Linked DNA regions of Homo sapiens: region 1 is reported to be linked to region 2. Evidence: microRNA targets listed by miRTarBase, many of them from high-throughput screens and not tested one by one. Region 2 holds a microRNA gene; the other region holds the end of a gene's coding sequence.
The links. Region 2 holds the annotated microRNA hsa-miR-4738-3p (UGAAACUGGAGCGCCUGGAGGA, at 2,664-2,685, shown strand). A microRNA usually pairs through its seed, bases 2 to 8, with sites in the 3' UTR of a target mRNA and lowers its output. Matches are read on the target gene's strand: a 7mer-m8 pairs with bases 2 to 8, a 7mer-A1 pairs with bases 2 to 7 and ends in A, and an 8mer does both.

Region 1: miRTarBase lists DDHD2 as a target of hsa-miR-4738-3p. Seed matches in the 3' UTR shown: 7mer-A1 at 1,531-1,537.

The regions. Positions count from the first base shown.
Region 1 is chr8:38,259,297-38,263,681 of GRCh38, reverse strand. DDHD2 (DDHD domain containing 2) reads right to left here. Exons shown (of 18, transcript NM_015214.3): 17 at 3,535-3,642; 18 at 846-3,082. The coding sequence ends at 3,561. It overlaps PLPP5 (phospholipid phosphatase 5), which reads left to right. Exons shown (of 7, transcript NM_001102559.2): 7 at 1-552. Among named protein-coding and RNA genes, the nearest start is that of PLPP5, 7.7 kb to the left of the region's middle.
Region 2 is chr17:75,782,819-75,787,214 of GRCh38, reverse strand. It overlaps MIR4738 (microRNA 4738), which reads left to right and starts at 2,608; the gene lies at 2,608-2,694. UNK (unk zinc finger) reads right to left here and starts at 2,409. Exons shown (of 16, transcript NM_001080419.3): 1 at 2,231-2,409. The coding sequence starts at 2,334. RefSeq lists enhancers at 1,159-1,736, 1,748-2,147, 1,737-2,315, 3,878-4,057 and a silencer at 2,208-2,347.

The DNA.
Region 1 (4,385 bases), not on the chromosome of region 2:
CTGATGACAATTCCATCAAGCCTTAAATAGGAAAATGTCGAATCTAGGGTAATTTATCACTTTTGTGTGCATCTTATCTGAGTCCAGCCATCTGGTACTGCTGTGCATTTTGAACACCGTGGGCATAAACAATTTGTTGAATTACTAAGTGAAAACAATAATAAAGAAGAAAATGGTCAGGAGTGTGGTTTCAGCACTACTAACAGATGACTGTTTCTACCTCATTTGACCATAACTGTACTTGTGAGCTTCTTTCCTTCCATTCATGACTGAAGATCTGCTCAAATGCACCAACACTGCCAAGTGACTAAGGTAGAAAAGAAAAATGACAGGTATCGTCATCTGAAGGACAGATGAATCTTTTTCTGCCCCTTCTTCACAATGGAATATAAGGAACAATTATGGGATGTCATCAGAATGGATGCCATAGGACCTACAGCTCCCTTTCTCTTTATTGTGATTATACTTTAAATATGACATTGTCTTTTATGTGTATGTTCCTATATTTTCAATGTATCTTTTTCCTTCAGTAAACCTGATATTCAAATAAAATGGTAAATGTGTGCTTTTTTAAATATTTAAAGTACATTAAGGGGCTGGAACTTTAGTAAAGCAAAACATTGAATTCCCCATCCGCCCTAAGTGATTCAACTGCTGTTATCTATAGTACTGGCTAATATTTATAAATACCAAAGGAAAGTCTCTTATAATTGCCATGCTTTAAATTCTGAACTTAAATTCTGCCTATGACAATTAAAATACCAGTCAACAGGAAAGAACTTACATATTAGTTCTTTGCCCAAAACCTATTTTTTTGTTTTAGTAATACATAAAGACAGAGAAAATCGTGACTGTACTGATTTTCTTGACTTTGAGACGGGTGAGTCCAGGTAAAAGTAGGCCACTAGTCAATATGGTTTCATGTTAGTATTTACTAAAGTTTTAAATATAATCACGTAGAAAACAAACATTTCAAAAATGCAAAATATTAGAAATCTAATCAGTGCTATTAATCTTTCCATGCAAACAATCTCTTTTGCTGAGATAAGTGATACTAGTTCTGCAGCTGGGAATATGTACAAAATGATGCTGTACCAGAGTTTAAAAATAGGGTTGGTCTAGAGATTGCACATGATACAAATGAAGCAGCGCAAATAATATATGACTAAATACAGGATTTCAATCAAGCTTATCATCCTGGGAATATACAGCTATAATACCATGAATAGACAAGATATAAAGCTCTTTCACAGTTACCCACCCCTCACCACTAGGAAAGAAACATTTCTTAATACAAAGAGTGGTTTATCTGGCTATCCAGGGCTATGCTGTCCATCTTTGGTTATAGGGACTCCCTCTGCTTATCCTTTGGTTTACTCTTAAATAGCACCTATTCTGCCAATAGGAAGAGTAAACATAAATTTGAAGACCACAACTTGGCAAAAGCTTCCCCTTAATATACAGTGAATACTTAATTCTCAATAACTCAGAGTTTATATACCTTTAAAAAAATAAAGTATTCCATATATCTGAAACTTAGTGGCATACTTAGCACTAGACTATAAGCAGATGACAAAGAAAGGCCAGGCCTGACCTATACCCCAACCTTACCTCTACAATCTCCATGGTGACAGTAATTACCCTTCATTTTCCTTTTCTTTCCAGAAAGGGATAAAGACCACTGCTGTCTAAGGAATGGCTTCAGTAAATATTAAATGTCAGTGGCTTTGAATACCATAACATTTATAAAAAAATTTATAAACAATAAACCACAGCTCGCCTGCCTTTGCCACTCTATAAACAGAGGCCTGTGGAATCTGAGAGCAAGTATAAAGGATTATCATAAAGAGAACTACAAAGACAATGACAAACTGACCAATGAAGAAGAAAAATCTACAGCAAAGTAGTGAAAAGATGCCTTGACAAAATTAGTGTGCAGTCACTTGTGTTCTTAGAAGTAAACCTCACTTCATATGTTCCAGACTCAGCTGACACTGACTCTGGAATAGCTGTTTCTTGGACCCTACAGACATAAGTTTTTCTTTCAGAACAAGTTAAACATTTCCCCCTAGCCAAACCTACCTGCTCAACCAATGCTGCCCGTGCCAAGAGCCTTTTAAATATGCTTTGTGGATTATGGATACCTAAGAAGGAAAGAGGATACACAATACTACCTTAGCTCAAGTAGAAATGGCAGGTGACAAATTCTGTTTCACCATAAAGGCACCACTAAAAGGTTTTATTTAGAACCTCAGCAGCCTGTAGAGGCTACACAATTTCAGGTTCATCAGCTTTTACAACTATTTTCAACGTAAGAATAGAAGCTATTAGCAAATAACTTCTATCAAATATAAAAGGGAGGCCTAGGATATACAACATCTTTGCTTTATAAAGATGCACCTAACATGAACTAACTTGTCAACTTTAGACTCTTACAGCAGCTCAAACAGTTGCAAAAACAATGAACATCAGTGATTTCTGGCAATAAGTCTGTCAGTTCTAAGAGAGTAAACAACACTTTTTTAAAGCTACATTCTAGTCTTTCTTCATACACTACACATAAGAAAGAAATGCAGGTTCAAAAATAAATCACCCAAAAGTCTTTTCCATGTCCACTGAGACTTAGCCTTCAGTTCAACACAAACAAGAGATAAGTGTACTCCAAAATGCCTTCTGAATCTCAAGAATCTGTTTCCAAACTAGAACATTTTCTAAAGATAAGCAATAAGTTCCTTAAAAACATGTCTACCCCACCCAAAACAAATCAAACCCAAAATAGGCTTTACACCCTGTCAAGTACTAATCAATAAAGTGTGGCAACTATAAACTATCATCAAAGAATTAAAGACACAAACCACCCCCAGCTATGCAGAAAAAAATGGCAAGTGTTTATATGAAGCCAGTGGTTAAAAGTAATAGGGCCTTTTGCTTTTCCATTCATTTCCAAAGAGGAAGATTATCTTCCAAAGACCCCAGTGGTGAGTAAGTGGCAGGCAACATGCAGGAAATGACGCAGCTGAGGAGAGGAAAATTGCAGCAACAAACAGGTGGATTTTCTGGGGAAGGATCCCTCAATGTCCGTCTAGGGAAGAAAGTGGGAGAAGAGCTGCAGTCACAACTGGAAGGCAACCACAGAGAATGCCAGAGTCGAATACACAGACTTTGTAATTTCACATCTAAAAGGCTGAGTAATTTAAATCTCAGGATGGGTGGTTGGTAATTAAAATCATAACTGTTGCCACAGTAACTCTTAGATAACAGAACCATTAAAACTCTGAGTTTAGATCCTAAAAAATGACAGGTGTCATTGGACAAAATCTCTAGCAAAACAGACATACACTAATCTTCCTCTAAATGGGCTACTGTGTTTTTTTCCCCATGAATTTCTACCAGTCCCTCTAAAAATGAATAGCAGCCTAGATCTTGGTGACAGGCAACAGCTAGTATATTTAAAAAGAGCTTGAGGCTCCATAGTTCATTATAACATGTTAATATGTAAGAATTACACTATATATATGACATTTTAAAACTTACATTAAGCAGCCATAGATGGGTCATTTTTACTGTAAAGGCTGATCAAGGAAGATACCCTGGGTTTGGTAGATCTCTTTGAGGACGAGCAATACTGTATCTTCAGACTCCCTATAAAGAGAAAAAATTATGTTGAGAAAAGGAACTAACACTTGTGCCAAATGTTTTACATATATTATCTCATTTAATCCATACAACCATCTTGCAAGTTTATTTTTTACTTCTGCAAAGAAATGAGATTCAGAAGTAATGTAATTGGCAGTGGTTTGGAAGGTGACCTGGCAAAGAACTCTGGCATTAAGTCTAGTAATATAAAAAAGCTAGGAAGAGAGGCCAGGTGCGGTGGCTCATGCCTGTAATCCTAACACTCTGGGAGGCTGAGGTGGACAAGTCACTACAGGTCTGGAATTTGAGCCAGCCTGGCCAACATGGTGAAACCCCATCTCCACTAAAAATACAAAAACTAGGGCTGGGCACGGTGGCTCACGCCTGTAGTCCCAGCACTTTGGGAGGCCAAGGTGGGTGGATCACAAGGTCAGGAGTTTGAGACCAGCCTGGCCAATATGGTGAAACCCCATCTCTACTAAAAATACAAAAATTAGCAGGGTGTGGTGGTATGCGCCTGTAGTCCCAGTTACTGGGGAGACTGAGGCAGAAGAATTGCTTGAACCCAGGAAGCGGAGGTTGCAGTGAGCCGAGATTGCACCACTGCACTCCAGCCTGGCAGATAGGCGAGACTCCGTCTAAAAAAAAAAAAAAAAAACTAGCCAGGCGTGGCAGCATGCGACTGTAGTCCCAGCTACTCAGGAGGCTGAGGCAGGAGAATCGCTTGAACCGAGGAGGCAAAGGTTGCA
Region 2 (4,396 bases):
ATCAGAGCCAGCAAGTGTGCTGGTTCCATCATATGTGTCCTCATGCTCCCTGCACCTCAGCCCTAGGAGGACTAGGGGATGAAGTTTTCCAGGTCATCACAGCTTCTGAATGCTAGTAAGTCTAGCAAGAAAGACCACTGATTTCTATCTCTGATTTTTGGAAATACAAATATAAAAACACACATACATATGAACAGACAAAGAGATAAGAACACCTACAACCTCCCATCAAGCTTGGCTATTTCACCTACTCCTGTTGATTTCCTAAGACACCTCAAGAGCCAGGTCCCATTACTCTATACTTACCCACAAGGAATGGAAAGGCAGGCTTTTTTTTTGTTTTTGTTTCTGTTTTTTGAGACGGAGTTTTGCTCTTGTCGCTCAGGCTGGAGTGCAGTGGCACGATCTCGGCTCACTGCCACCTCCGCCTCCCGGGTTCAAGCGATTCTCCTGCCTCAGCCTCCTGAGTAGCTGGGATTACAGGCGCCCGCCAGCACACCCAGCTAATTTTTTGTATTTTTAGTAGAGACGGGGTTTTGCCATATTGGGCAGGCTGGTCTCTTCACTCCTGACCTCATGCGATCCGCCTCGGCCTCCCAAAATGCTGTGATTACAGGCGTGAGAGCTACCACGCCCGGCAGGAAAGACAGGTTTTAAACAAATGAGCATCAAGAGGACAAAGACTCAGATACTGACATTTAATCAGCTGTTCACTTGTTTCACCTGTCAATTCCAAAATAAGAAAGCCTTTCTATTACAGATTCCATAGTATGCTCAATGACAACACAACACAGAAACACAAGTTGCTGAAGCCAAGACTCTCGTGACTCAAAATGTGTTTATTTTGCTAAAAACAGTGATCTGAGCAACCAGAGATTATAAAGAAGTTCCAATTACGTGAAGTTTCCAGATTCGAAAATCAAGACTACACCATTCAACTCATCAGTAGTCTTTGAGCTAAGAACATCTCACCAAAATCAATGGAAAGACTGCGAAAGATCTCCAGTAAGAAAGGACCAGGAAAGCAATGTCCATATCAGAAAAGGAATGGTTAACGTGAGTCAGACTGTAGTCAAGAAGCTTAAATGATTTCAGCCAACAACAAAGAATCCCACAAAGAAACCATACACTTCCTATAACCAATGTTCCCCAACCCCAGAACAGTTTCCCAAGGTCTTCTATAACAAGAGTTCCTCCTGACTGGTTTGAGTTCTTTCTACTCCAACAGATGATTCTGTTCTTCGTTCACTGAACAACTTAAGAGCTGTTCAACCCCCCAGGTTCCAAAACCTCTCGCAGCTGGGGATCCTTTTAAACATGCACATCACTCAGGAGCCCATGGGGATGAGAGGCATTCACAGAGCATCAGGGAAAATGGAAAGCAACATTTTGCTTAACAGGAGAAACCGCCCCTTATTCATCTTTCTCCCACATCACCTAACTCTAGGGAATGCTTAACGTGGCTTGAAGGAAATGAAGACAGCGACCTAAAAGCACACAGATGCAAGACTTCCAGGAAGAGGTTTTCCCATCCTGCTGGACTCCTGTAGTGTCAGTATTTGGGGCTCCCTCTAATGCTACATTTCTGCTGAGCCTGCAGACATACTTGGAACCCATCACCTTCGGGCTCCCAGACTCAGGCTCCGCACAGCCCGCGAGGGAAACGGTCATGGGCACGCACGGACACGTTTCCATCTTTGCATGTTTATCTACGTCGACTGTGAATTCAAGCAAGTGTGGCCCTCGTGGACAACCTACGAGCCTTAGGGACACAAAAGGCTTCCTGCGCAAACTGCACGGAATCTCCTGACAGGACTTCACGTTAATCATCATTCATAGGTGGGTTCTGGGGCTGGACCCCACGGAACTCCTCTTGGTTGTGTCTTGGACTTCTCACTGCCCCAAAGGAGCCTACTACTGTGGTTTTATGGTCTGAGGAACAGTTAGGCCTCGAAGGCCTGGCCTAGGGAGAGTGCACTCTGCATCCCGAGCTCCCGCCTTCCCCACTCGGCGGCCGGGACCGAGTTTCCCGCCCCACAGCCCGACCAGAGGTTGGTGGCAGTTGGAGGCAGTTGGGACCGGCCCCAGCAGGTTGGAACCGGTCTGGGCCGGGCCGGAGGAGGAAGGGGGGGAGGAAGAGGCCGCCTCGCGCTCTCCCTGCGCGCGTGACTCACGCTGGCCGCTGACGTCAGGCGTGCGCGCGCGGCGGGGGGGGGGGGGCTCTACGTACGTGTAGTGCTGCGGTTTCTCGGGCTGTGCCTGCAGCACCTGAGCGGTAGCGGCCGGGGGCGCCGAGGAAGCTGCGGAGCCGCCGGGCCCGGGGCCCTTCGACATGGTCTTGTCTTCCTGCCTCTTCGCCGCTCCCCTTTTATTATTCAGTCTGCGCGGTCCGCGCCGAGGACCCAGTGCGCCTGCGCCGCGCCACGAGAACGTGAAGACCCCCCACACGGCAGCAGGGGTTGCTGGGAGTTGTGGTTCTATGTCCGGCTGGAATTTTACCGTCGGCAGAGGGTTGCTGGCAAAGCACAGGACCACAATACCCAGGGATCCTTGCTGCTAGTGTCCCGGATGCTGAGGGCCTGCGACGGCTTCTGGGAATTGCAGTCCGGTCGCATTTCTCCTTCTTACCAGCGCGTTTTCAGTTTCATAGGGAAGCCTTTCCATGAAACTGGAGCGCCTGGAGGAGAAGGGGCCCAGAGCTAGGGAGGCCCTAGCGATTTCTGCGAAAGAGTTCCAAGTATAATTTCACTGCCAACAGTGTCATAACTACTTTGCCTTTATACTTAGTACAGCTAGGTTCGGTTCTAATGCCAGCTCAGAGCAGTGCTCCAAGCAGGGCTTAAGAATCTGTGTTGTCGGTTCTTAGTTCTGGGCCCTGTGCTGCAGGCACCTGCAATCCGCCAGCAACCCCTTCATCCCTGCGGCGGGTCTAACCTAAGAGGCATTGAGAAAGCTTTGCTAAGGAGGAGGTACACCGCACGCTACAGTTCCCGCGCCTTTGCCGAGGCGCTTCATTTACCTTTGCCAAACTCGACACCTGGAACTCCACGACTTGTGTGCTTTCTCAGCCTGACACCTGGCCTGACCAACTTGTTTCCAGTACATTAAGGGCCAAGGACGAATTTAATCTCCGCCTAGAATAGTCTCTGAGGTACACTGACAAGTTGCCAGTGTTGAGAAGCATCACAGGGTCCAGAGGAAAGGCCTGGGTTTGAGTAGGGCGTGCCCGTATTTATCCACTCTAGTTTTCTTGTCTGGACGTCAGCCTTTTTACTTGGGACATTATCTTTCCCCTCTCTGCTTCCCACCAGTCAAGCAAAGTTCTTCACTTTATAAAATAAGCCAGATGCCCCAGACCTAGGCATTTGTTTCTGTGAGTTTTAGAATGTTCTCCGTAGATATTTTAACCGTTGTCATTTAATTTGGTTTTTCATATTGAATCTATTTCAAATCCACTGGTTTTGATTTATATTTTCTTAGATGGGATTATATTAACAAATGATTATCTCATTAAAGAAACACATTCCAAATAACCTTAGGGATGAAGGGTGGTGGGGCTAATGGAAAATCGTTAATGTTTGAGTGACACATACTTATTTTATTTAGCTCCAAGTTCCCTCACATCAGAAGCCACATCACAGAGTTGAGAAACTGGTTTTTCCTAAACAGGCTAAATCGTTTAGCCACTAGGGGCGTTTGAAAATGAAAAATTACAAAAGGACAAATAAAAGTTGTAGTATATTGCTTTAATCCTATGATTAAACGCAAGTTACTTGGTTTATGTTAGCCTCACAATACTCAAGTGTGATCTGACTGAAGAAATAGAGTTCACAGCACTGGATTTTAAATAATAGATGTATATCATGAGCTTCAGAATAAGTGTGTACTGGTGGAGTTGGGAGATGATATCATCCAAACTGCTTAATTTACAAAAGAGGAAACCGAAACCCAGAGAAGCTAAGTAACTTGCACAAAGTTACTCAGCAAGTTGGTAACAAGAGGAACTAGGACAGTAGCCTACAAGACTACATCACATTCACTGTTGGGTTTTGTTTGTTTTGTTTTCTTCTGCTTTTTTTCATTGTATAAACATTTTTTATTCTTCCTCATTTCCTGTGTTGCTTTTCCTCCGTTGTACCAATCTGGAAAAAGTGAAACATACCTGCATGACTACGAAGTAAGAGAGACAGCCTTTTTTTTTTTTTTTTTTTTTTTTTTTTGAGGCAGAGTCTTGCTCTGTTGCCCAGGCTGGAGTGCAGTGGTGTGATTTCGGCTCACTGCAACCTCTGCCTCCCAGGTTCAAGCAATTCTCCTGCCTCAGCCTCCTGAGTAGCTGGGATTACAGGTGTGTGCCACCACGCCCACCTGATTTTTGTAGTTTTAGTAGAGACGTGGT